Linked DNA regions of Homo sapiens: regions 1 and 3 are each linked to region 2. The links come from fine-mapping of genetic effects on gene expression. A gene starts in region 2. Each other region holds a variant in brackets. All regions are shown on one strand. Distances are from middle to middle.

The links. PIP is the estimated chance that this variant, and not a neighbour inherited with it, causes the effect.
Region 1: its variant is fine-mapped to the expression of ESD in whole blood (TOPMed, PIP above 0.99).
Region 3: its variant is fine-mapped to the expression of ESD in amygdala (GTEx, PIP 0.96).

Annotation. Positions count from the first base shown.
Region 1 is chr13:46,767,244-46,775,433 of GRCh38, forward strand. ESD (esterase D) reads right to left here. Exons shown (of 10, transcript NM_001984.2): 10 at 4,013-4,253. The coding sequence ends at 4,173. Among named protein-coding and RNA genes, the nearest start is that of ESD, 26 kb to the right of the region's middle. The variant G/A (reference allele first, on the strand shown) is at 3,952.
Region 2 is chr13:46,793,977-46,802,166 of GRCh38, forward strand. ESD (esterase D) reads right to left here and starts at 3,185. Exons shown (of 10, transcript NM_001984.2): 1 at 3,129-3,185. RefSeq lists enhancers at 2,320-2,921, 3,053-3,102 and a silencer at 2,693-2,742.
Region 3 is chr13:46,101,497-46,109,665 of GRCh38, forward strand. It overlaps CPB2 (carboxypeptidase B2), which reads right to left and starts at 3,537. Exons shown (of 11, transcript NM_001872.5): 1 at 3,440-3,537. The coding sequence starts at 3,513. The variant C/T (reference allele first, on the strand shown) is at 3,827.

The DNA.
Region 1 (8,190 bases), 27 kb before region 2:
GATCCACCTGCCTCAGCCTCCCAAAGTGCTGGGATTACAGGTGTGAGCCACTGCGCCTGGCCTGGATCTGCATTTTTCTAATGATAACATCCAAAACTTTGGCTAATTCGAATACATTTATACATTTTTAAATATATAATTCATGCCTACTTGTCACAGATTTTATATGTATACTTTAAAAATACTTGAGATATGTCAGCTTGGAAATATTAAATATTCTGTTGTAAGATTTTATGACATGGTTTTATCTAAACTCATTTGCATCGTCAATATCAGTAACATCACTACAGCCATTTTTTTCTGGGGGAGGGGGCAGATAGAGTCTCAGTCCGTTGCTGGAGTGCGGTGGTGCAATCTCAGCTCACTGCAACCTCTGCCTCCCAGGTTCCAACGATTCTCCTGCCTCAGTCTCCTGAGTAGCTGGGATTAAAGGCACCTGCCACCACACCTGGCTAATTTTTGCATTTTTAGTAGAGATGGGGTTTTGCCATGTTGGCCAGGCTGGTCTCAAACTCCTGACCTCAAGTGGTCCACCCACCTCGGCCTGCCAAAGTGCTGGGATAACAGATGTGAGCCACCACGCCTGGCCTACAGCCACTTTTTGCAGCAACTTTTCACATCACCTTCACTTCTAAGTGGTTTGAGATACAATATTACTTGAATTGATAAACGATGTAGCCACTGGAAATTGTATCCCCCAAGATAAGTATTCTTTGCAATAACATCAGGATTTTTAAATTCTTCATGCAGTAGTATATTTATGATCTTCACAGCATAACTACTTAATATACTTTTAATGTAAACCTTATTAAAGTATAACACATATTAAAAAGTTTATAAATCCTAAGTGTATGGCCTGATGAATTTTCAGTGAACATGCTCATGTACCAAGCACCTGGATGAAGATAGCATCACCAGTACTCTCTCCTGCCATGCTCCAATCACCTCTCCCTCAGAATGCCCCCCACCACCCCCTTCCATTGCCTTGCTATGTGTAACACCTCCTGTCTTCAATACTATGCATATAAAATGGTACCAAGTTATTATATAGCACATAATTTGGTGTCAGGATTCTTTCTTCCAGATTATGATTGAGACCCCATCCATGTTGCTGCATCCAGTTATAGTGTGTTTATTTTTATTCATGTAGAATATTTCATTGTATGAATATGCTCCAATTTTACTAATTCTGTTATAGATGGATTCAGGTTATTTCTAGATTTTGGCCATTGTAAATGGTGCTGCTGTAAACATTCTCATGTAGCCATAATGTTCCTGTTAAGTACAGAAACATGCATTGAAAGGCTATAGGAGACGTGCTAAGTAAGGTCTGAGGCCTCATCAGACCTTACCAGTTTGCTAAGGTTGAACTAGACCTTAGCAGATCCTGCCAGATTGCACCTTATTAGCAGTATAATTCAGGTCGCCATGTTTCCTTGTCAACACCTGGGATTTTCCATTGTCTGAACTTTAGCCATTCAGGTGGGTGTGTAGGTTCATTGCATTGTAGTTTTTATTCGTATTTCCCCAGTCTTACTAAGCACATTTTCAGGCATTCATTAGCCATATTTGTCCTATTTTGTTAAGTACAAATTTTTTGCCAAATTTTATGTTTTTAAGAATTTGTGAGAGTTCTTCAGGCATTCTAGATACAAGTTATTTGTCAGATATATGTGTTGCAAGCATCTCCATCTACTTTGTGGCTTGTCCTTTTACTCTTCATGGTGGTGGCTTTACAGTATTACGTTTCTTCAAGAACATAATCTTCACAAGGGTCTTACATTGAACATAATCCAGGAAATGTCAGATTCCTTTACCTCCTTTTATACCTGATTGTCAGGTGACTTCTAGAAACACCCTAAACAAGCATTGGGAGTTAATGTTTAGGTTATGTATTGTTAACTATGTCACTGAGATGGAACCTTACAATATGAGAGACATTAAGATTGAACTCTTTCTAGTTGGGGAAACTCATGTTACATTTAGGCATTGATAAGGACTCATCCCTCCCCAGGCCAGCATTTGTGGCACAAAAAAGCAAGCTCAAATGTATTGGTTTATTATCCTCAACAGTCATTTCTGTTTTAACTAAAGGTCTTTGTCTTTACTAACATTAGCTGTTCATCAGCAATTACTTAATGAATATTTAAATGTTTTGCATTTACGTGTAAAAAAGCAAAGCAACTATTTTCTAACAATGATACACTAACTAACTTAGCTGTTTGTTACAGTCCCCTGTTATTCAAATACTAATCTAGGTGTTGCTATGAAGGAATTTTGCAGATAAAGTCCCTAATCAACTGACTTTAAAGAGGAGAGACAATCCAGTGGACCTCACTTAATCAGAAGGCCTTAAAAGCAAGACTGAGGCCTCACCAGGAGAGAAGAAATTCCTCCTGTGTACAACAGCTTGAGCCCATGCCCAGAGTCCGTCCTGCTTGTGCCTGTCCCTTCCTGACTGCTGCTCTATGGATTTTGGACTTGCTTAGCCAGCCCTCATAATCAGGTATGCCAATTCCTTGTTTTTTTTTTTTTTTTTATATATATATATTTATTATACTTTTAAGTTCTAGGGTACATGTGCACAACGCGCAGGTTTGTTACATATGTATACATGTACCATGTTGGTGTGCTGCACCCATTAACTCGTCATTTAGCATTAGGTATGTCTCCTAATGCTATCCCTCCCCCCTCCCCCCTCCCCCCACCCCACAACAGGCCTCAGTGTGTGATGTTCCCCTTCCTGTGTCCAAGTGTTCCCATTGTTCAATTCCCACCTGTGAGTGAGAACATGCGGTGTTTGGTTTTTTGTCCTTGAGATAGTTTGCCGAGAATGACGGTTTCCAGCTTCATCCATGTCCCTACAAAGGACATGAACTCATCCTTTTTTATGACTGCATAGTATTCCATAGTGTATATGTGCCACATTTTCTTAATCCAGGTATGCCAATTCCTCGTTTTTTAAAAAAAATCTTAATGTATATATCTCCTACTAGTTTTGCTTCCCTGGTTTAAACCTCAACCTCAATGATCTTAGGGACAATTGTTTTTCTTCACAAATAAATTACCAGCATGTAAAACGTTCATGAATGATCTTATTAGAAGACACAAGACTGTTTAAATGAGAACCATTCTGTGTACAGCTCATTCAAGGGCTCAACCTTGACTACTGATGTTTAAATAATACTAATTTTATAACTTTAGGAACTTAATGTCATTTTCTTCAGTTACCATAATATGCATTCCTACTGAATGTTTAAAATTTATTTTTTAACAGAAAAAAATATATTTTTAAAGCAGCCAGGTTTTACTGGCTTCTATCATGTTTTACTGGCTTTTATCACATTTCAAAAAGTTTGTCTATTAAAAGTTCTTAAAGGAAAACAATTGGGTATTTACAGAGATATTACTTTTCTTGGTGAGCTCACCAAGTTAAATCTCTGCTTGCAACTATGGGAAAATATTCATGTTTACAGTAACATATGAAACTAATACGTTTCCTTATTTAGCCATTTTCAGATTGAATCTTATTTAATTCTTGAGAACCTTAATACACCCAAAAACCAATGTTCACAAATATATTAGACTCAATAGGTAAGAAAAGAAAATCTGTCTTCTAATATCCCACAAATAGCTGTGTAACGATGGGGAATTCATTTAACCTTTCTGAGCCTACCTCTTTATTCTGTAGCTAACAGTTATTAAATATCCACTAGAAATCAAGTGGATATTTGCTTTCTAGACACTTGCTAGACACTAGAGATACAACAATGAACATGACAAAGACAGTCCAATGTCTTCAGAGGCTTAAAGTCTGGAAAGGTGAGGAGTCTGGGCTAAATTACTTTTAAGTCTTCTGTTCCAGAGTTGCTACTCTATACTTCAAATAGGATTACATTCATATTCTATGACCTGGGATTAATACAAGAATTTCCAAACGACACTGAAAAA[G/A]CTATAGAGCATTAAAGATTTCCTATGTGAACACTTGTAAAATAACTTTTAAAATCAGAAGTAGGTTTTATATCTTTATTCAGAGGTGATTCAACTATAGAATAAAGCCCTTTTAGCACTATAAAATCCAATGTTTTGAATTTTTTTTTTTTTTGCTCAGCAATACAGTTGCATTTTACAACTTTTATAATCCTGAAGAGATTCTCTTATTTGGAGTTTTTTCATGCATTCAGGTATTTAGCATGATGTCTGATGTGGTCAGTAATAAAGGTTGCAATGAAGTAGTAGCTATGATCATAACCCTAGAAGATAAAGAGATGATAAGACATTTATCTACCATTCAGGAACATCAGTATTAGGAACATTAAATATATCTCTAAGGTCGTTTAATTTGCTTACAAATAGTCATAACATTAAGGAAGTATGAGGAAGGTTTATAATAAAATCAAGGTTGTCATCCTTGTACTTTAACATTTTCACTGTACATTAAAAGAGCAGCAAAAATGTGAAGGAAAACTAAACATTCTGCCTAGCTTCTAAACATAGCCTAACTTCTAAATGCTGCCATTAATATGTAAAGAGTGGAAGTAACACATTAATTAAATATGCAGAGTAGACATGTCATATCAACACTGTAGAGTGCATTAAATATGCAGAGTAGACACTGTCATTGAAAATGACACTATCAATTGACAGTGTCAGTTGATATGACACTGTCATATCAACCAAGATGAAAAGAATCAGGATTTAGAGATCTTAGAAACATGGGCAAGACATTTCAATTCACAAATGCAGCACATCAGTAAGACAGTGACTATTAAAACACAAAATAAGCACACAAACAATATAGAAAAAGAACATAAAAATGCCCAAATGTTCTATCATTGTTGGGAAGTCAAACACAGCCATCATAAATCCTGTTAACAATTCCTCCTACACAGTAAAAGCATGTTGTATCTTTATGTGAGGGGAAATATGTCATTAAGGCCTGACATCCCTTAGCAAATTAGGTAAAAAGTCAGTAATCCTTTGGAAAACTAACATGAAACAGAGAAAAATGCAATGTGCTAAGCAGTTAAGTTGAAAGAGATTTCTATCTATCCAGTCATTTAAAACCATTGTTGTAGGTAAATGGAGAAATAATCCCTTTCTGCTGACTCTGACACTTCTTCTGAATATAAAAAATAGTCTTCCAAAAAAAAAATAATTACAATAAGGTATTAACGCATTTTCCTTCTTTTTTTGTTGTTCAACTTTTAAGTTCAGGAGTACATGTGCTGGATATGCAGTTACATAAGTAAACGTGTGCCATGGTGGTTTGCTGCTCAGATCAAGCCATCACCTAGGTATTAAGCCGAGCATCCATCAGCTGTTCTTCCTGATGCTTTCCCCAACTCCCATCGCCCTTTGGCAGGCCCCAGTGTGGGTTGTTCCCCTCCATATATCCATGTGTTCTCACCATTCAGCTCCTGCTTATAAGTGAGAGCATGTGGTGTTTGGTCTTTTTTTTTTTTGAGACGGAGTCTCACTCTGTCACCCATGCTGGAGTGCATGATCTTGGCTCACTGCAACCTCCACATCCCGGGTTCAAGCGATTCTCCTGCCTCAGCCTCCCGACTAGCTGGGACTACAGGTGCATGCCACCATGCCCAGCTAATTTTTTGTATTTTTAGTAGAGACGGGGTTTCGCCATGTTAGCCAGGATGGTCTCGATCTCCTGACCTTGTGATCCGTCCACCTTAGCCTCCCAAAGTGCTGGGATTACAGGCGTGAGCCACTGCGCCTGGCCTGGTGTTTGGTTTTCTATTCCTGCATTAGTTTGTTGAGGATAATGGCTTCCAACTCCATCCATGTCCCTGCAAAGGACATGATCTCATTCCTTTTTATGGCTGTACAGTATTCCATGGTGCATATGTACCACATTTTCTTTATTTAGTCTATCACCGATGGGTACTTGGGTTGATTCCATGTCTTTGCTATTGAATAGTATTGAATAGTACTGTAGTGAACATATGTGTGCTTGTATCTTTATAACAGAATGATTTATATTCCTTTGGGTATACACCTAGTAATAGGATTGCTGGGTCAAATGGCATTTCTGCCTCTAGGTCTGCGGAATCACCACACTATCTTCTACAATGGTTAAACTAATTTACACTCCAGGTGGGAAGAACTTTCTAAGGGTATCAAACACCAGATAATTTATCCCTATCTACAATTAAAATACAAGGTTGAATAAACCGAAAGAAATGAAAGTCTAACAAAGATTTTGTTTTTCCCATTTTGAACTAGTGAATGGTCACTGATGGGAAAAGATGGGAATTTTTCTAAGCACCTAAGAAATAAAAATAGAGCTAATAAAAATATCACTGACGCTTCAGAGAACAAGGAAATCCCCAAGGTTTTGATGAATCAGTAAATGTTCTCAATCTCTCCCTTCCAGAGAGGTATTAAATGTTTATCTTGGGAACAGCTGTTAATAAAAAGTTCTAGTTTAAGGTCAAGGTAACTTAAGTCTTCTAAAGCAATCTGTCTTCTATCATGGAAGTGAATGTGACAGGAATGTTGTCAAGATTAAAGCTGAGCCTCGGAATTACTTGGTGTCATGTCTCTCAATGATTAGACTAGTCCCAGCTGGCTAGTTGAATTTAGAGCTAAATTACAGTTTCCTATATAAAGAAAGAAATGTAAAGAAAAACATTTTCCATCCATATAATTCTTGAATTGTTAAGAAGTTAAACAGGCCTGGAGTTTTAGGCCACCAAACCTGTAAAATGTACCAAGTATTATCTGCCATTTTTCACAGATCAAAAGATGGATCTGATAGAAAATGGGTACAGATGCAGGGAAACAGATATCTCAAAAGACTTGTGTGACCAAGTTCCAATGTGACTGAGTATGCCATATTTTTATCCTTAGTTTCTTGTGTGTTAAGAGCCATCAGACACATATGAATAGCCATCATTATTATTAGAGAAGTCCCAAGGTAAACCCAGGAATATATTGCAAGACAAGACATCTAAAATCCAAAACAAATGACCATAAGTTCCATAATGATAAAGATTCACCTATATGAGAAAGAAGAAAATGCCTGCCATTGAGGGCCCAAGAATTTTAAAAAATGTCAACAAAAAGGCAATAGAATACATTTGAACAATTGGTATCCTGCTGAAGTTACACAATTCGAGCTAATTGTATCATCCCTGACGAGGGTTTCTATTTATCAGTCTTATTAAATGGGGATGGCTTCTTTAATTAAATTCTTTGATGAATGAGTTGGTATGATATGTTAAGCAGCTTGTGCAAATGCCTATGTTTAGTGACACTTGAAGGGGACTTTTCTCCTCTACCTCACACTTTAAATGGAAAATCCTTGGTAGCAAAACTCTTGACTCCTGGAGTATAAAAATAAATGAACACCTTTCATTCTTTCATTCTTCACTCAGCTCTCAAAAAGGGAGCAGTGCTCCAGCAGCTATGATGGATGTTTATCCTAACAGGCAGTGTTTTCTTATATATTTTCCAGACCCAATTAGAAAAGCTTGGATAAGAATCCCCAGGTTATTAAATCTCTTCAGTGTATAAGGAGGAAGACTTTGCACTGTATTCATTTAACAAGTATTGAGAGTCTCTGTGCTAGATACCTATGCTAAATAAGCATGGGATACAGAGATGAATGAGAGAGCTCTACATTTCTGGGATTCTCTGCCATGTTCTTACTCTTCTCTAGCAGGCAGATGCAGAGGCTAAAACAGCCTCTCAATCTTCAAAAAGGTCCTGAGACTTAAGGAGGTAGTATAGCCTCTCCTTCTATTCCACAAAAAGAGATTACTATTTCTGGAAACTTCTTCACAGTATTAGGTCACTAAATTTTTTTTTCTCACTGTGTAACTCCAATAACTAAAGATAAGACATACTAGGCCCTTCTTTTTCAGACTAAGATTTGATCTCTGTACACTAGATATCAGAATTCTGCTACCTAGTATTTTTTTTTCAATTTAGATTCCCTGAAGCCAAAATAGAAAAAGAAAAAATTATATAAAATAATAACCAAATAAATATCCCCGATGCACTAACCCCTCTCTCTAAAAAATTTTTTTTGACATTCGACAGAGTATAAATATAAATTGTGAGCATTTAACACCATTAAAAAGAGGTAAAAGAATGAAGTTGAGTAAATCATGTGCATGATTGTAATTATTTTCTTTATTCTTTCTCAGATCGTTTATTTATATATAT
Region 2 (8,190 bases):
GTAAGAAAAATATATATGGAAACTTACATAGTATATATCATGTCACTTATCTGGTAGATTTCATTTAGGCTCTAGAACAAATATATATTTAGGTTCTAGAACAGATTTTGTGGGAGAAATAGGGTGACAGAGTAGGGTGGAATACCAAAAAACCAAACAACACCCTTCCTCCTTCCCCTCCAAAAAACAACAACAACAACAACAACAACAAAAACAGAAAAACAATTTCACAGTGCCAGTGGGAGTTACACAATTTTTCCCAAATGTTAGTGAACATCAACATTCTTTGGAGAAGAAAGGGTCTCTCAGTGCATAATACATCCATTCCCCTAAAGGTCAAACCTTACTGTTCTTCCCTTTATTTTTTATTTTTTGGAGATGGGGTCTTGGCTGTGTGGCCCAGGTTGTAGTACAGTTGCATAATCATGACTCAGTGTAACCTAGAACTCCAAGCTTCAAGTGTTCTCCTACCTCAGCCTCCTGAGCAGCTAGGACTACAGGTGCGTACCACACTGGAATATTTTTTTTTTTAATTTTTTGTAGAGACAGGGCCCTTTACTTATTAAAGTTAAATGTCATCCACCTCCAGAAATCTGAGTTCTATTTTTATCCTTCTTCCCCTGTGTCTCAAGTTTTCCATAAATCTCTACATGTGTTTTTTTGTTCCCATTCTCTCAGATTCCTTGGATTTTGATGTTTCTTCATTTCCAGGATGTCCTATTCCACTGGCTCTTAACAACCTAGACAGGTGTTCCCAAAACCAACAATCTACAGTTCCAATAACTGCTGTTGACCACCACTGTGTTGTTCAAATCCTCTTCTCAGTGAAAACTCAGGATCTGGCTTCTTCCCTTTCACTCTGTCTCCTCCCACCTCCCTTTTCTTTTTTCTTCACACTCTTTCCCTAAACCTCATTCCCTAAATTTCAACTACATTTTCTGGGTGAAATAATCTAAATCTGCATCTCTATAACCAATCTTTCTCAAGCATTAGTACCCATAATGACATTTCTTGCTGGACTCTTCTACCAAGACATGTCACCAGCTATTAAAACTTACCACACCTAAAATTAAGCTTCTGCATCTCACCTTCAAACCATTCCTCTTTTCATTGCCTCTCTTTTTCAGACTCATGCCTGTCTTGCCTAATCTACATTTGAGATGCCTCAAAGTTACCTTCTTTTTGAATTCCCACTGCCATCATCCTAATTATATATAAGAAATTAAAACTTAGCCTCTTCCTTTCTTCCTAATACATCCCACTACGATCAATCCTGCATGAAAGCCTAGGGTTTTAATCCACTTAATTTACTGGTCAACGGATCCCTACCAACAGCTCATCTGCAGCCTAATACGGCCTACGTGGAATTGTTAGTCATTTTTATTTAGTATTTTAAAAACTGTGATAAAAACACATACATAATATTTACTATCTTAACCATTCCTAAGTGTGTATTTCAGTAGTGTTAAGTATCCATTAGTCATATGTAAAAACGCAGTTCGCCAGCTCACAATAATGAGCAGATGAGAACTGCCTCATCACCCCCTGGCTGCTGCAGGTGGAGACTACTAATCCCTTTCGCTGTTAGGCCAGTCGCTGAGAACCAGAAAGTCACTGAAATGGAAGACCATGTTAATTGTACAATTTTCTTCAAGTTTAATGCCATTAAAATTTCATAAAATTAAAACCATGCAGGATCACTGAAAAAATAGATGAATAAAACTCCATATAAACTTCAGTCACACTCTACCTGTGTGCAAACACAGTCTTTTTTTTCTTCTTTTTTTTTTTTTTGAGACAGGGTCAAACTCTGTGGCCCAGATTGGAGTGCAGTGGCCTGATCTCGGCTCACTGCAATCATCTCGGCCCCCGGGCTCAGGTGATCCTCCCGCCTCAGCCTCTGGAGTAGTTGGGACCACAGGTGGCACCACCATGCCCAGGTAATTTTTTGTAGAGGAGGTTTTGCCATGCTGCCTAGGCTGGGTCTCTTTTCCTTCATAAAAATTCACATGGCTTGCCTAGGTAAGGATTTCTATTAAACTCTGGGGAAAATTTTTTAAAAAAAATATAGCATCTATAAACGCCAAACACCTTCACATGGCTCTAAATATGGTCTATAATTTGGTCCCAGATTATTTTTCTGGTCTCACTCCCTATTTTGTTAGTTAAACTCAACTATGCATAATTCTAGGATGGCCTGGATGTTGCTATCGGGTGGCTTTACTCAATGCCACGGTACAATGGTTTCAGAGCAGGTTTTGGGGCCAGACCCTCCGGGTTCAAACCCTGACTTCACCACTTATTACTACATGACACTGGGCAAGCTAATCTATGCCTCATTTGCCCATCTGCAAAATGGGTATACAGTAATATATATCAATTTGATAGGGTTGCTCTGGGAATTAAATGAGTTAATTCACGTAGTGCTTAAAATGCTGCTTCTACCACACACACAAACATGAGCTATTATTTTTCCTGCAACCTGAATGCCCTCTCCTTCCAGGTGCGCTCAATCCCATTTCCCTAATGACCCCATCAGAAATGACTTCCAGTCCCCCACAGCGCTCTGAGAGCATTTTACGACCCGAACAGATTTTGTCAAACTCCAAAGACACGTGCTCCCCTCGGCACCATCAGGTGAGTGCTCCTGACCGCGCCATTGGCTCGTGCCCCGACGCGGACGCTGCCTAGAGCAGCAGGTCCACACTCCCCCGAACCAGGCGCCGGCGGCCGCTAGTAACGCGTTGAGGCCAGCTCCCTCCTTAAAATGCGTACACATCTACTTCACATTTTCGCGCGGTGGCTGCGGGTCTAGGAAAGTCTTTCTGAACAGGAAAAAGCTGTACAAATGTAGCGGGCAGTAGGTAAACGGGCGCTCGCCCCGGGTTACACTAGGTTGGAGGCTCAGAGAAGGAAAAGGGATTAGAGGCGAGGCTCCGGGTCACGGGAAAAGGTCCTTGGCCTCCTGTCATGGATGGTGGCGCCCAAGGCCCAGGGTCGCCGTCTCTGCGCTCGTGCCTGCGGATACCTGCACCGCAGGACTCGGCGTCCGCCCCGATCACGCCTAGCCGTGCCGCAGCCGCAGGAAGGCTGACAACGTCCAGGCCTCTACCCGAACCCAGTCTTACCTACGGTGGCGGAGTGACCAGAAGAAGCGGGCCGAAGTAAAAGGCGGGGCTCAAGATGGCCGCCGGGGCCTCGCCTCAGCCCCGCCCATATGATGCCCCGCCCCTCCGGTCCCACTCACTCTCGCTTTTAACTCCGAGAACCCGCTCTTCTCCAGTTCAGTCTCCATGGCCCCGCCGCCTTTGCACATTGCACTTCCCGGCAGCCTCCGCGTGGGCGCCCCCTCCAACTCCTGCCTTCGCCCGCGTTTCTGCTCTGTGTGGTTACTAGGACCAACGAGGAGGGCGTTAGGTTAGTCCCTGTCACCTTGTCGGGGATCAGTCTGCTGTGCGTGCTCAGACTCTTCCCAGAGCCAGCAGCAAGAACCCGAGGCATTAATAAACTTGAGATGTAGCTTCGCTTAACTCGTGCAGAGGGTTTCCGTGTCACTTATGTAGAAACTAGGGCCTAATTTCAACTCCCTCAACTCCTCTGTCCCAAGACTATCCACGTCACCTACTTGGTAGCTTGAGTTAAACAAGAAACCTTTGAAATCTCCAGTGGCCGACACGCAGTGGGAACTCCATCAGTTTTCTGTTTTCTCCCTTCTTCCCTCAATAAAAATTAAGTTGAACTGACTAAGATTTGCTAGTTGATAATTTACAGCAAATCTTTCCTTTTGGTCTCTCTGATTTAAGCAAACTGTTGAGTGTACTTTGCCTCTTGAGAAATTAAATCTGATTACAACAGAGCTAAGTATTTTTCAGCAACGGTTAGACTGACATTGTAAATACACAATCTGATAGTTGGGGCTGGCCTCATGGGCCTGCAACCTGTGCTATTACCCGGCCCCCAGAACAGAAGGACGCTACATTTTCTCTCAGTAAGTGTTGAACCAGGGCCCCACGTTTGTGTCTGGAATTGGGCCCTGCAAATTGTGTAGCTATGGGAGCTGACTTAAGTATGGATGAGCTGCCACACAAGAGATTACCTGCCAGAATCTATTGTGTGGCTCAGGCCCATTTTGCCATAGTGATCTTTGGACTAAATTAACCTGTGGACTGAACCTGTGGATCAATTGGAACTTAGACTGAAAATAATGTTTCATCAAAATAATGTTTTTATTTTGAGAAAGCATTGAAGTAAATTGTTTTAAACTTTCTTTTTACTATCTTTAAGTATAAATCATTGAAAAGGGGATTTTCTTCAGTTTCAAAACTGAAACAGAATAAATACCTAAATTGCAAGTTCTTTATAACTGATGTTTGAACAAAGAGAAATAATTGATTAAATGATATATTTGCCTAATAAGTGGACTGCTGTGAGGTGCAGACTAGCCAAAGAACTGTAAGTGTGAAGTTCTTTACTAAAGGGTTCTTGTGTGAATACAATGTGAGAATAAGCAGAACTAAAATTTCTTTTACCCAGCATAAATAAAATGTTAATAGATCCACAAAAGTCGATTGCTTAAAAATATTAAGAATATATATAATTATCATTATTATTTGGACATGGAAGCAAAGAAGGCTGAAATCAGAAATTAAGGTTGACATTTTAAAAAATGGCACTACCAATAAAAATGGATGAATATTAAGTACACAAAGAAATAGTCCAAAAATTATGTGTAAATGTGTGGCTGAGAGGATATAGGACTCTTGGTTTGAACTAAAATGAGTAGGAATATAATCTTAAGGAGGCAATAAAGGGATGCAATAAAAATGAGAAAAAGTCAAATATACTTGAAGCCTGTAAGAAAAGAGATTGTTTTAGTCAGTTCCAGCTTAACAGAAATTTATTCCTCACCATTCTAAAAGTCTGGGAAGTCCAAGATCAAGGTGCTGATGAAATCTGTTCCTGCTGAGAGCCCTTTTCCTCGTTTGCAGAGGAATACCTTCTTGCTGTAGTCTCACTTGGTGGGTGGGGTGAGGAGAGCTCTGGTTCCTTCATCTTATTGTAAGGGCACTAGTCCCATTCACATGGACTCCACCATCATGGTGTAATTATCTTCCAAAGTCTCCATCTCCAAATACCATCACGTTAAGGATTTAGGGTTCAATGTTTGAATTCTGGGGAACACAAACATTCAATCCATAGCAAAGATAGTTTTAGAGAGACTAGAAAAGACACCATACATAGAAAATAATATAATCTCTTGGGTATCAAATATGCTACTTGAGAAGTGTCCTTGTGGCTTTTCCACAGACTAGAACAGGGTTTCTCAACCTCGGCACTGTTGACATTTGGGGCCAGATGATTCTTTGTCGTGGAGGCCTACCCTGTGCATTGTAGGATGTTTCGTAACATCCCTGGCCTCCACTAGCTAGATGCCAGTGGTACCCCTAACAAGCTTAGATACCCAAAACGTCTCTAGACATTGCCAAATGTCCATGGAAGGAGGGGTTGGTGTAGAGGAGGGCTGCAAAATTGCCCCTAGTTAAGAACCACTGGCCTAGATAAACATTTTTCAAAATTCCCTTTATTTTGATTCTATTCTTATCTAGTGACATTTTGGAAAATAATAGGCTCCATTGTTATTTAATAAATCAGAACTTAGGTTAAAAATGCTTTAGTCTCTGGTGAGTGTAGCTGAGATGATACATTTTCCCAAAGACTTACCATCTCTGAGCATGATACTCACCTTACAGAATTGAGTTTCTGAATGTGTACTCTGAGGACCAGACTTTGGATCATGGGAACTGAACCAAGTACCGGAAACTTATAGCCCTGTGCCACTGTTCCATCTTGACTTTGTTATCTTAAGTTCTAACTGCAGAGTACAATACAACAAGTACAGACAAGCCTTTCAGTCTCACATTCATATTAGCAAATGTCCAAATTTCACATATTTCAATTTTATTTATTTATTTATTTAAGATAGGGTCTTACTCTGTCACCCAGGCTGGAGTGCAATGGCGCAATCATAGTTCATTACAACCTCAAACTCCTGGGCTCAAGTGATCCTACTGCCTCAGCCTCCTGAGTAGCTGGCACTACAGGCGTGTGCTAGCATGCCCAGCTAATTTTTGTATTTTTAGTAGAAATGGGATCTTGCTATGTTGCCCAGGCTGGTCTTGAACTCTTGAGCTCAAGTGATCCTCCCACTTCAGCCTCCCAAAGTGCTGGGATTATAGGCATGAGCCGTTGCACCCAGCTGCATCTGGCCTCAATTCCATTTACTTTTTTTTTTTAATTCTTAAATCCTAAAAGCTATATTTCTTTTTCATCACACATTCAAAAAAATCAAGAGTTAGTGTGTGATTGTACAGAGCTAGACTTTTGTGTTAGCCATTATTGTTATTTTTGTTAGCATGAGAACTAAAACTATAGATTTTTTCCTGTTCAAAGTGACTCCTATTCTTTTATCACCTTTTGCTCAATTACAGTACTGTTAAGTTTCTTAACATTCTACATATTTGTTGAGCCACAGTTTGTCAGTTTATTCATAATTTTTAAAGTTCCATTGATAGCTTATTAGAAACAAAATGAACTCTGGCTATCTGTTAATCATTGGCATGTATGAAAACTGACAAAAGGCCAGTTCACTAACTGTTTTGGTTAATGCTTATAAATCTCCTTTGGTGTAAGATTAGTATTTTGCTAGTGAGACTACCTATGCTTTCATGATCCTTTTCTCAATAATGCCAACTATTTCTTTAGGTCATTTCTAAAATGCCTCCTAGTCACTTACACATTCCCCAGCATAGCTTAAACATGCTTCTATAATTATTTGTAAACATGGAGAGTGAAGTAAAATAAACTATTTCATAGACAATGAGGCAACTAAAAAATTCTGAGATTACCATTATAACCATGGCTGGGATTTTGCTAAAGGAAACTAAGAATTTAGAAGAAAATTGGGGTTTTATGTATCCTCCAAAAGTCAGTAGCTCTAGATATTATATCATTATCTTTTTAGGCTGAGAACTAGGACAGCTTCCTTGGTTATGAAGAATCAGCTGTTAGGTAGAAATCCCCGCAGATATGCCATCTTGGCCTTATTGCAAGGACCATTATATCCACAAGTCACCCCAAATTTCCCTTTCTGTTTGCCTCCCTATATGAAAACAATTTAGAAATTCCATTTTCTTTTTCCCATGTCCTCCCTCCAGCTCTCTCTCTCAATAGACAGATAAATGGATCTATCTATCTATCTATCTATCTATCTATCTATCTATCTATCTATCTACAGTCATGAGTTGCTTTATGACAGGGATGTGTTCTGAGAAATGCATTGATAGCTGATTCTGTCACTATGGGAATATCACAGGGTATACTTACACAAACCTAGATGGTATAGCCTTCTACCCACCTAGGCTACATGGTATAGTCTGTTGCTCCTAGGCTATAAACCTGTACAGCATGTTACTGTACTAAATACTCTTGGCAACTGTTACACAATGGTGTTTGTGTATCTAAACACAGCTAAATACAGAAAAGGTAGAGTAAACATGCAGTATTACAATCTTATGGGACCACTGTAGTGTATATAATAAGTTATTGACCAAAACATTGTAATGCAGCCCATGGCTGCATCTGTACACACACATGCTCAAAATATTACTGTTAAGAAACACTTGCTATGTGCCAGGCACTATGAATGAAGATGACATTATTACCAAGTTATCCCTCCAGGTTCATGAGCTACAGCTCCCTCATAATTCCATCCTATGCTGAAGCTGTATCAAGCTACTTCCCTCCTAATTATAATCTAAACACCCCATGCTCTTATACCATCATGATTTTGCACATGCTGTTCCTTTTGCCTATCCCACAACACACTTCTCACCATGCACAATTTACCTTACAAACTTACATGTTTTTCAGTTCCCAGCTCAAATGCACATTCCCCAAGGAAACTTTTTGAACTGCTTAGATAAAGCTAAGCACTCTTCAGTGCACCTTTAGCCCTTGTACAGCCACACCTCTATTGTGGCACCTAACATTGCATTGCAATTTTGAATATAAGTAAGTTTCTGAAAGGCAGGAGCTGAGTCATATCCTAGCTCTAATACTTGCAAATCGTAGGCACACAAGTGGCTTTAGAATTCATGAAAGGTTACTATGGTCTGGGTATTTGTGTCTCTC
Region 3 (8,169 bases), 690 kb before region 2:
TGAAATTTTCTAACTTTCCATGCGAGAGCAGTGATAGATAACCCCACTACGCAAAATGTCATGGGGCAATGGGAGACAAAAACTAAAGCTGTGTTTCAACTGCGTCTCTGAATGATACGATTATAGCACTTACACAATAACCACTTGAGAAAAAAGAACAGCCTTGCACCAAAAATCGAATGAGAAGTACAAGCACAGTGAAGTAACAGGTCACTTTACAAAAAAAAGTAAAGGCTGAAAGGGGACGAGCAAATTGCCCAAGTCTGCATGGGTGATAAGTAGCAGATCTGGGGCTCGAATCCAGATCCTGAGCTTTTAATACCTATGCAACACTTCCTCTGTTCCTTCCCTTCTGAGAACGTCATTATGTTCATTGGGGTGTATCCCCTGCTATGGTTTACAGGGGAGGGTTCACACTTTCACCATTCTGAAAGATTATTTTGAATTTAAAAAGCTGGCAAGATGTCTCTGAACAATGGAACATAGCCCAAGGCTGCAATTTTGTTGCACACATTACAGTGTTTTAAGGCCACTGGTGGCCTGTTCTTTGAGATGAAAACAATACATCAGTAGGAACAAAGTGAAAGAGAGTAAACTGGTCTCCAGGTACCCAAACAGTATGTGAAGTCAACAGAGGAACACTTCCTGTGGTCTATTAATAATTCAGAAGCCCTTTATCCTCAACCCTCCTCCACTCTCTAATTCCTAAGTCTTCTTCCTAGTGTCTCTTACTTCCTCTTTCCAAATAGTCTGGGCTGGCAGGCTGCATTTAGGTAATCACTGCACAATACAATTACTGATTCTGTTTACAAGATTCTTGCTAGTATTTTATTTTTACCCTTTATAGTGTTTGGCTTTTAAAAGCAAATGAATATGGAGTCATGATTTTTTGGCTGCCTTTCCCTTTGGCATATGATATTTATGCCTTTAAAACTTGTTGTTGTTCCAGGGCATTTCACTGATGAAATTTATCAAAATGAACCTACAAATCAGCCACTAAGAGACTGCATGAATAAAAACTGTTAGTAGGAAAATGATTATGACAAAAAAAAAAAAAAAAACAAAGAACAGCTTTAAGAAAAAGCCAGACTGTTAGTTTTTTTTTTTTTTTTTAGAAGGGTTGATATTCTGAACCCCAGCAACAATTTATCAAAGTCTGTTGCCCTGAATGAAATTAGATTTCCTTTTTAGCTTCAGGAATAGGCCATTCCTGGAAAAGTGGAGCACAGAAACATTTGGTAAAAAAATTTATTTTTACTCACAGAAAGAGTAGTTTGCAATGTTATTTCCAGTGAAGGGATGGGAACCAGGATTCAGATATTCATCTGTCTACAATACTGAGGTCCTCCTACCTCCTCTCCTCTGCAAAGGGACCCTCGCAGTATGCAAAAGTATTAAATATTTTTAATGTGATATTCTTTGGTTAAAATATAGTCACATTCTCATTCCTTTTTTCAAGCATAAGTATCAGTCAGATTTCAGAGTATAAGCTGAAGCAACAAATAGTAACAAAGCCCATGCATGAAGATATGTTCTCACTCATTTTTTTACTATTTTATTGTTGGCTACTTCTTCTATTTGCGTTATATTTAGTGTCACTAAGCTGCTATACACGTACTCATTTGAAGAGATGTGCTAAAGCTTTTAGTGTGTTTTGCTATTGATTATCCTATCCAAGAGTTTGGGTTACTCTACGATCAAGATGGCGGTCTGCAGTGAGCCCACCTGCCCGCCAACCTCTGCAACAACCAGCTGAGGATAATTGCACTGGGCTGACGCCAAGGCCATGATTAGATCTGCTAGTGGGTGAGAACCATGAGACTGAACCTCTAATCCCGAACCTCTCTTCCAAGCTACTTTCCAAACCAACTGCTGCCTGCAACTCCCTTTGACTAAATCTGACCTTCCTTCAAACTGGCTCTCTTCCTAATTTCCAGATTTTATGGAGGCAATGCTGTCCAGTGCATGGAGTTGAAATGAGGCTAAAGTGGGTTTGAATCCAAGCTCTACATTTACTGTTTGATCTTGGGCCAATTATTTATTCTTCCTGAGGCTCAGTTTCCTCCTTTGTAAAATGTCAGTAAAGATTCCTAGCATGTAGGATTTTATGCATTTAAAGAGATAACATTTCTAAGTGACTAGTTCAGTGCCTGGCACAAACACAGGCACTAAATAAGCAGAGGTTTCCTCCCTTTCCCCTAACTGTCAATGGTACTGCCACTGTGTACAGTAGCCAAGTTGGACATGTTGATACCAATTTTTCTCTTCTCCCCCTTTCCCTTAACTGAAGCCAATTATCAAGTTATGGAATATTAGAACTAGCAAGAACCTTAGAAATCCTGACCATATGATTCACCGATAAAATACAGAGAAAGACATAAGTCACTGATCATTGCAGCAATCTTGACCCCCACGTCAATTAAATAACAAAAATAATATCATTTTATGATAGAATTTGTTGCTCGACATTCGACAATCATGTTGAACAAAAGAAGATCAATCAACTATAATCAGTTCAGTGATCATGTACAAACACAGCTTCAGGCTCACAAGTCAAGATCTATTTTCCAAACCATTGTCCTATGGTTATTTATGACCGTGAACATTTTTTTGGTGGTAGAATGTTCCTTGTCACTGGTATATTCCTTTGCCCTATGTCTCTTCTTTCTTTGTCATTTACTAACATGAGGAGAGGGATCTGTCTCAAAGATAATTGGAGGAGAAAGCGATCATAGAACCAAAACAAAGGGGAAAAAATAAGATAATTCCAAAGGAAACAATATCAATGTTTTAAAGCCTAAAAATTGACTACTTAATAAATTACATTACATATACCCTGGAACTATTTTCTCCATGCATTGCATGTGCTATAGCATGAATTCATTTGTGTTCTTCTAGATAGTTTATCCTAAGGGAATCTACTAAGCAAAATAAGAATCAGATAATAGTTCTTTATCACACAACTCTTCTTCCTTTCATATTCCATGCTAAATAATCATGCATGATCCAAACCTCCTATTTAACACTTCACCCTCTTCTTCCTCCTATGTTCCATGTACAAGGGGAAAATAAATGATCCATAGTTAACTTTTTTTATGTGAAGACAGGAAGAATATGAATCATACATCAAGTTAGAGTATAAATAGTTACGTTTATAAAAGATTTAATTTCTTGAATCTCCATAGTCACTGGATATGCGTATCATCCAAGGTTCTCCCAATAATAAAACCAGAGCCAGGAAAGAAAAAAGACCCTGTCTTTAGTGATAGCCCATTGTGCTAAAGTCTACTTATTTGTCAGGGCAACTTGGAAAGTTCTGAAAGACCTGGCCTTCAAAGTTTACCATTTTGTCCACCAGCTCAGTGCACTGACTTGACACGACATGAGGCAAACAAGTGAGGAGAGTGGCCCACCACAGTCTAAGATTCTATTGGGTTACCTCTGAAACGCGAAGACATGCTGCTCACAGAAGAGAACAATGGGTACAAGGACTGCAAGGCTGCAAAGCTTCATCCCAACAGCAATTTTCTGTACAACAAATTTCTCTGAAGAGAAAAACCCAGATCATTGATTGCATAACAGCCTTCTTTACACACTGGTTAAAATATAACGGCATGTTCCCTCTTGTTCCTGTGGGTCAATCAACTTAGCTTCCATTTCCACTCCCAAAAAGAGAAATATTATTGGCTTAGTTAGGCTGTTGCTTGATAATTAAACACTCAAAAAGAGTATGATGAGAGTTGCTCTTAATTTAGACTATCTAGAAAATGTGTAACTCCTTGGGGAAGGTAGGGCCAAGAATAAAAGGGTAGTAATACAGTAGGAT[C/T]TTGTCTGGTTTATTGCAGAACAATAGCTATAGAATATTGACTAATGGATATATAGCCCATGTTGAGGGAGATCTACCGTGAAGTACTATAAATGTCTTCCCTTGCCTCTGACTTTTTCAACATTTTAAATTTATGAAGATGTAAAAAGTGAGTTCCTCAAATCTGGCTAATCCAATCCAATGTTGAAGTGCAGTTTGTAAGGATGATTACAGGATCTCTGTTCAAAAAGATGTTTCCTTGACCATATGGAATGATAGGCCCACCCCCAATAGGAATACTATTTCATGGAAGCTGGTTCAAGCAGTAAAGACATCAGGTTACTTTGAATCTCATTTATTTAAAGGTCACCATAATAGCCATCAATTAAATCCAGGCCCATCCCCTATCATCTTGAAAGTAGCATCAAATAACATTTTGTCTAGTATGAGGCCATATCCTACCCTCTGTAAGTGAGTGGAGCCCTCTTCCCCTACATTCCCATTGGTTAATGCACTTGAATGTTCTTGAAGTCAGAATTGGCAAATTTGCAAAATAAATCAGCCTGCCCACAATTAACTTCTGAGAAGAAAATGATTTTTTTTCTTTTTTCTTTTCTTTTTTTTTTTTTTTTTTTGAGACAGAGTCTCACTCTGTAGCCCAAGCTGGAGTGCAGAGGCGTGATCTTGGCTCACTGCAACCTTCACCTCTGGGGCTCAAGCAATTCTCCTGCCTCAGCCTCCCAAGTAGCTGGGACTAGAGGTGTGCCCCACCACACCCAGTTAATTTTTTTTGTATTTTTAGTAGAGACAGGGTTGCACCATGTTGCACTGGATGGTCTCAAACTCCTGAGCTCAGGAGATCCACCTGCCTCTGCCTTCCAAAGTGCTGGGAATACAGGCGTGAGCCATCGTGCCTGGCCAGAAGAAAATGATTGAGATTTCAAACTTTTCCTTTTGAGATTTAAAACTATTGAATGATATTTAATGAATTAAAGTGACCTCCACTGTAACCACTTGTTGTATAAGAAAGAAGAAGAAATAAGAAAATATGTGTGTGTCTGCTCATATGTGGAGAAAGAAACATAAGAAGGATAGATTAGAAATCAATGAGACTGGTTATCCACGGGAGGTGAGTGGAAACACACTGGAAAAGACAGGGTAGAAGAGACAGGGAGGGACGCTTCTTTGGGTGAAGTGTTTTGAATAGTTCTGAACTTTAGAACTACTCTGAATTTTAGAACCATGTTCTTTTCACATATGTACTTAAAACAAGCAAACAAATAAATTTTAAAAAATAATACAAACAAAAACGAACCTGTGTTTCAAATGAATAACATAATCACACTGAAGGAGAGAAAGAAAAACTAACCCAAGTAACTTTTACCTTATCTTTTTAACATAAAAGTTAACTTTAAAACAAACAGTCAAAATAGTTAAAATATGCTAATAAATTCTATCAATTTTTGTGCTACTTATTTTGTATCTGTGTTTCTTCTTTATTTTATGTCCTGTTTCCTCTCTGGGGAAACAGAAACAGGATACAAAAGAAACAGAGTGCATAAAAAACAATAAATTTTAAATTACATTTCTTATTGCTGAAGCAATCTTTTAAAAGTTCCTATAGCAAAAGTCTACAGGTGATAAAATCTTTTATGCTCTGTATCTTTAACAATAACTTTCTTTTGCCTTCACTTTCAAGTACTAGTTTAGCTGAATGTAATATTCGAGTGTGACGGATGCGTCATTGTTGTTTGACATTTCCTGTTGCATGGTAGGAATCTGCTGCCCAGGTAATTGTTGTTCCCTTGCAGTTTAGCTGTCCTTTCTCCTTGATAACTTTTAAGGGATTATCTTTATCCTTGGTGCTTCTCAGATCCATTACTCTGGTCTAGATGTGGATTTAGTTTTTATTATCTTACTCAATACACAGGATGTACTTTTGATCTGAGGATTTAGACATTTCTTCAGTCTTGGAAAATCATTTTATTATTTCTTCAGCTATCGTATCTCTGCTAGTGCCCTGTAGGGGCTCCTGTTGGAGCTTCTTGATCTATCTTTCATGTCTTGTAACTGTCCTTTCATGTTTTAAAAACTCATCATCTTTGTCTCTGTATGCTGTATTCTGGGTGAGTTTCTCAGCACTATCTTCAAATCCACTAATTTATTCTTTGAGTCTAATTTAGACTACATAGTCCAGTTGAGGTGTTTTAAATAATTACCTCGATGACTATATAAATCATTTACAGCTGGTTCTTTTGCGTGTTTACTGATTTTGTTTTTATACCAGTATTTTAAAATATCATTTAAGATTTTTTTCAATTTTTTAGTCGATATGATTCCTTTAGATCTCTCATTGAGAATCCTCAGGATACTTATTTTAAAGTCAGTGTTGCACTGCTTTATGAGGTTAATTATGTTTGGGTGAATTCATGTTCTGAGTATTGATTTTGTTAGCTGCCTTTATTGGTATTTGAATTCTTCTGTGATTTGGAACTCTGGTCTGCAGGCTCATTTTGAGTAGGAAGTCTTCCTTCAAGTAGGAAGTCTTTCATTTCTTTCTCTCTTCCCCTATGCTCACTTCTCTCTGCTTGGCACATGCCTCCAAGAAGTCCCTGCGCTTCCATTCCAGAGCCCTGTCTTACACTGGTTTTTGGAGCACATTTCAAAGATCCAGTCAGCAAACAGTAATGACTTGACTTAATTATTGGCTTAGTTACTCCTGGTGTAGTTATTCTGTCTCATACTGACTAGCAGCTACTTATAAACCAGTCCTAGGTAAAAGTGAGCAGCATTTTTTTCCTTTGTATTAAGGTACATGCAGTGAAATGCACAGATCGTAAGTGTACAGTTAGATTTTATATATATATATATATATATATATATAGAAGTGTTTGTTCAGATCATTTGCCTGGTTGTTAGTTGGGATAGTTTGTCTTATTACTGATTTGTAGGAGTTATTCACATTTTCTAGACATCAGTCCTTTGTCAGATATATGTATTGTAAATATATCTTCCTTTGAGAAATGTCTATCAAATTCTTTTGACCATTTTGGAAAATTTAGTTGTCGTTTTATTATTAACTTGTGAGAGTTATTTATATATTCAGGATACAACTCCTTTGTCAGACATATACATTGTCAATATTTTCTGACACTTTGTGGCTCTCCCATTTTTTATTGATGTCTTTTGCAGAGCAAAAGTTTTTAATTTTGCTGAGTTCAATTTATCAATTTTTCTTTAGTGGTTAGTGCCTTCTGGGTCTTGTCTAAGGAGCTTTGTCTAACTCAAGATCATGCAGATATTCTTGAAGCTTTATAGTTTTGACTTTTAGGTTTATGATCCATCTCAAATTAATTTTTATGTATGTTTTGAGGGAGGGATTGATGTTCTTTAATTTTCCATATAAGTATTCAATTGTTTTAGCATCATTTCCTGAAAACACTTTTCTTTCTCCCATGGGATTGCTTTGCCATCTTTGGGAAAAATCCATTGGCTCTGTACGTATGAGTCTACATCCATAAGTTTGCAGTAATTTCTTTCCTCACCACAATAATAACTAGAGTGTGTCTGTTTTATTTCTTATCTCTTTTTTCTCCTTATGCTTCAATTTGGATATTTTCTATTGATCTGGCTTCAAGTTCACTTATTCTTTTCCCAGCAGTTCCAGTTTGCTGATAAGTCCATTGAAAGAAGTCTTTATTTCTGATATATTTTTCATTTCTGACACTTCTATTTGAATTTTTTTTTAGAGTTTACTTTTCACTGCTGCATTTCCCATTTTTTCATACATGTATGAACAAAGATTGTCTTTGAGCAATCTCTGCATCTGGTTCTTTTGACCATTTTCTCTTTTGAAGATGGGTCACTTTTTATGCTTTTTCATATACTTGTAATTTTTTATTGAATCACAGATGTTATGTACAAAAGGATAGGATAGACTAAAGTAACTAGCAGATAAGCCCAGAATAGGTCCCATATCTTCTTCTCTCATGCCACCAGTGTGAAGGATTGAGCCAATCTAGGCTGCAGTTGAGCTGGGTCTAGGCTTTGCTGTTATTTTTGTTAAATTTTATTTGTTATATTATTATAGCAAGATCAAATTATTTCCTCTAGCCAGGATTGATATCTGAGTGCCTGGAGGGTTTGTCTTAGTTCTCCTGCCCTGCCTGCACCCATCGTCAGGCCCAGTGCTCCTGCGCCATAGGAGGGGTCTCAGCTCTCCTGCTCTCCTCTTCCCTACCAGTAGCCACAGGCAGCTACTGTCTCCTGTTCAGCGTAAGGCTGGGTTCATTGTGGGTTTTCTCTCTGTTTTCCTGCCCTGACCTCAAACGTCAGCAGGCTCTGAGCTTCAAAGAGGGTCAGCA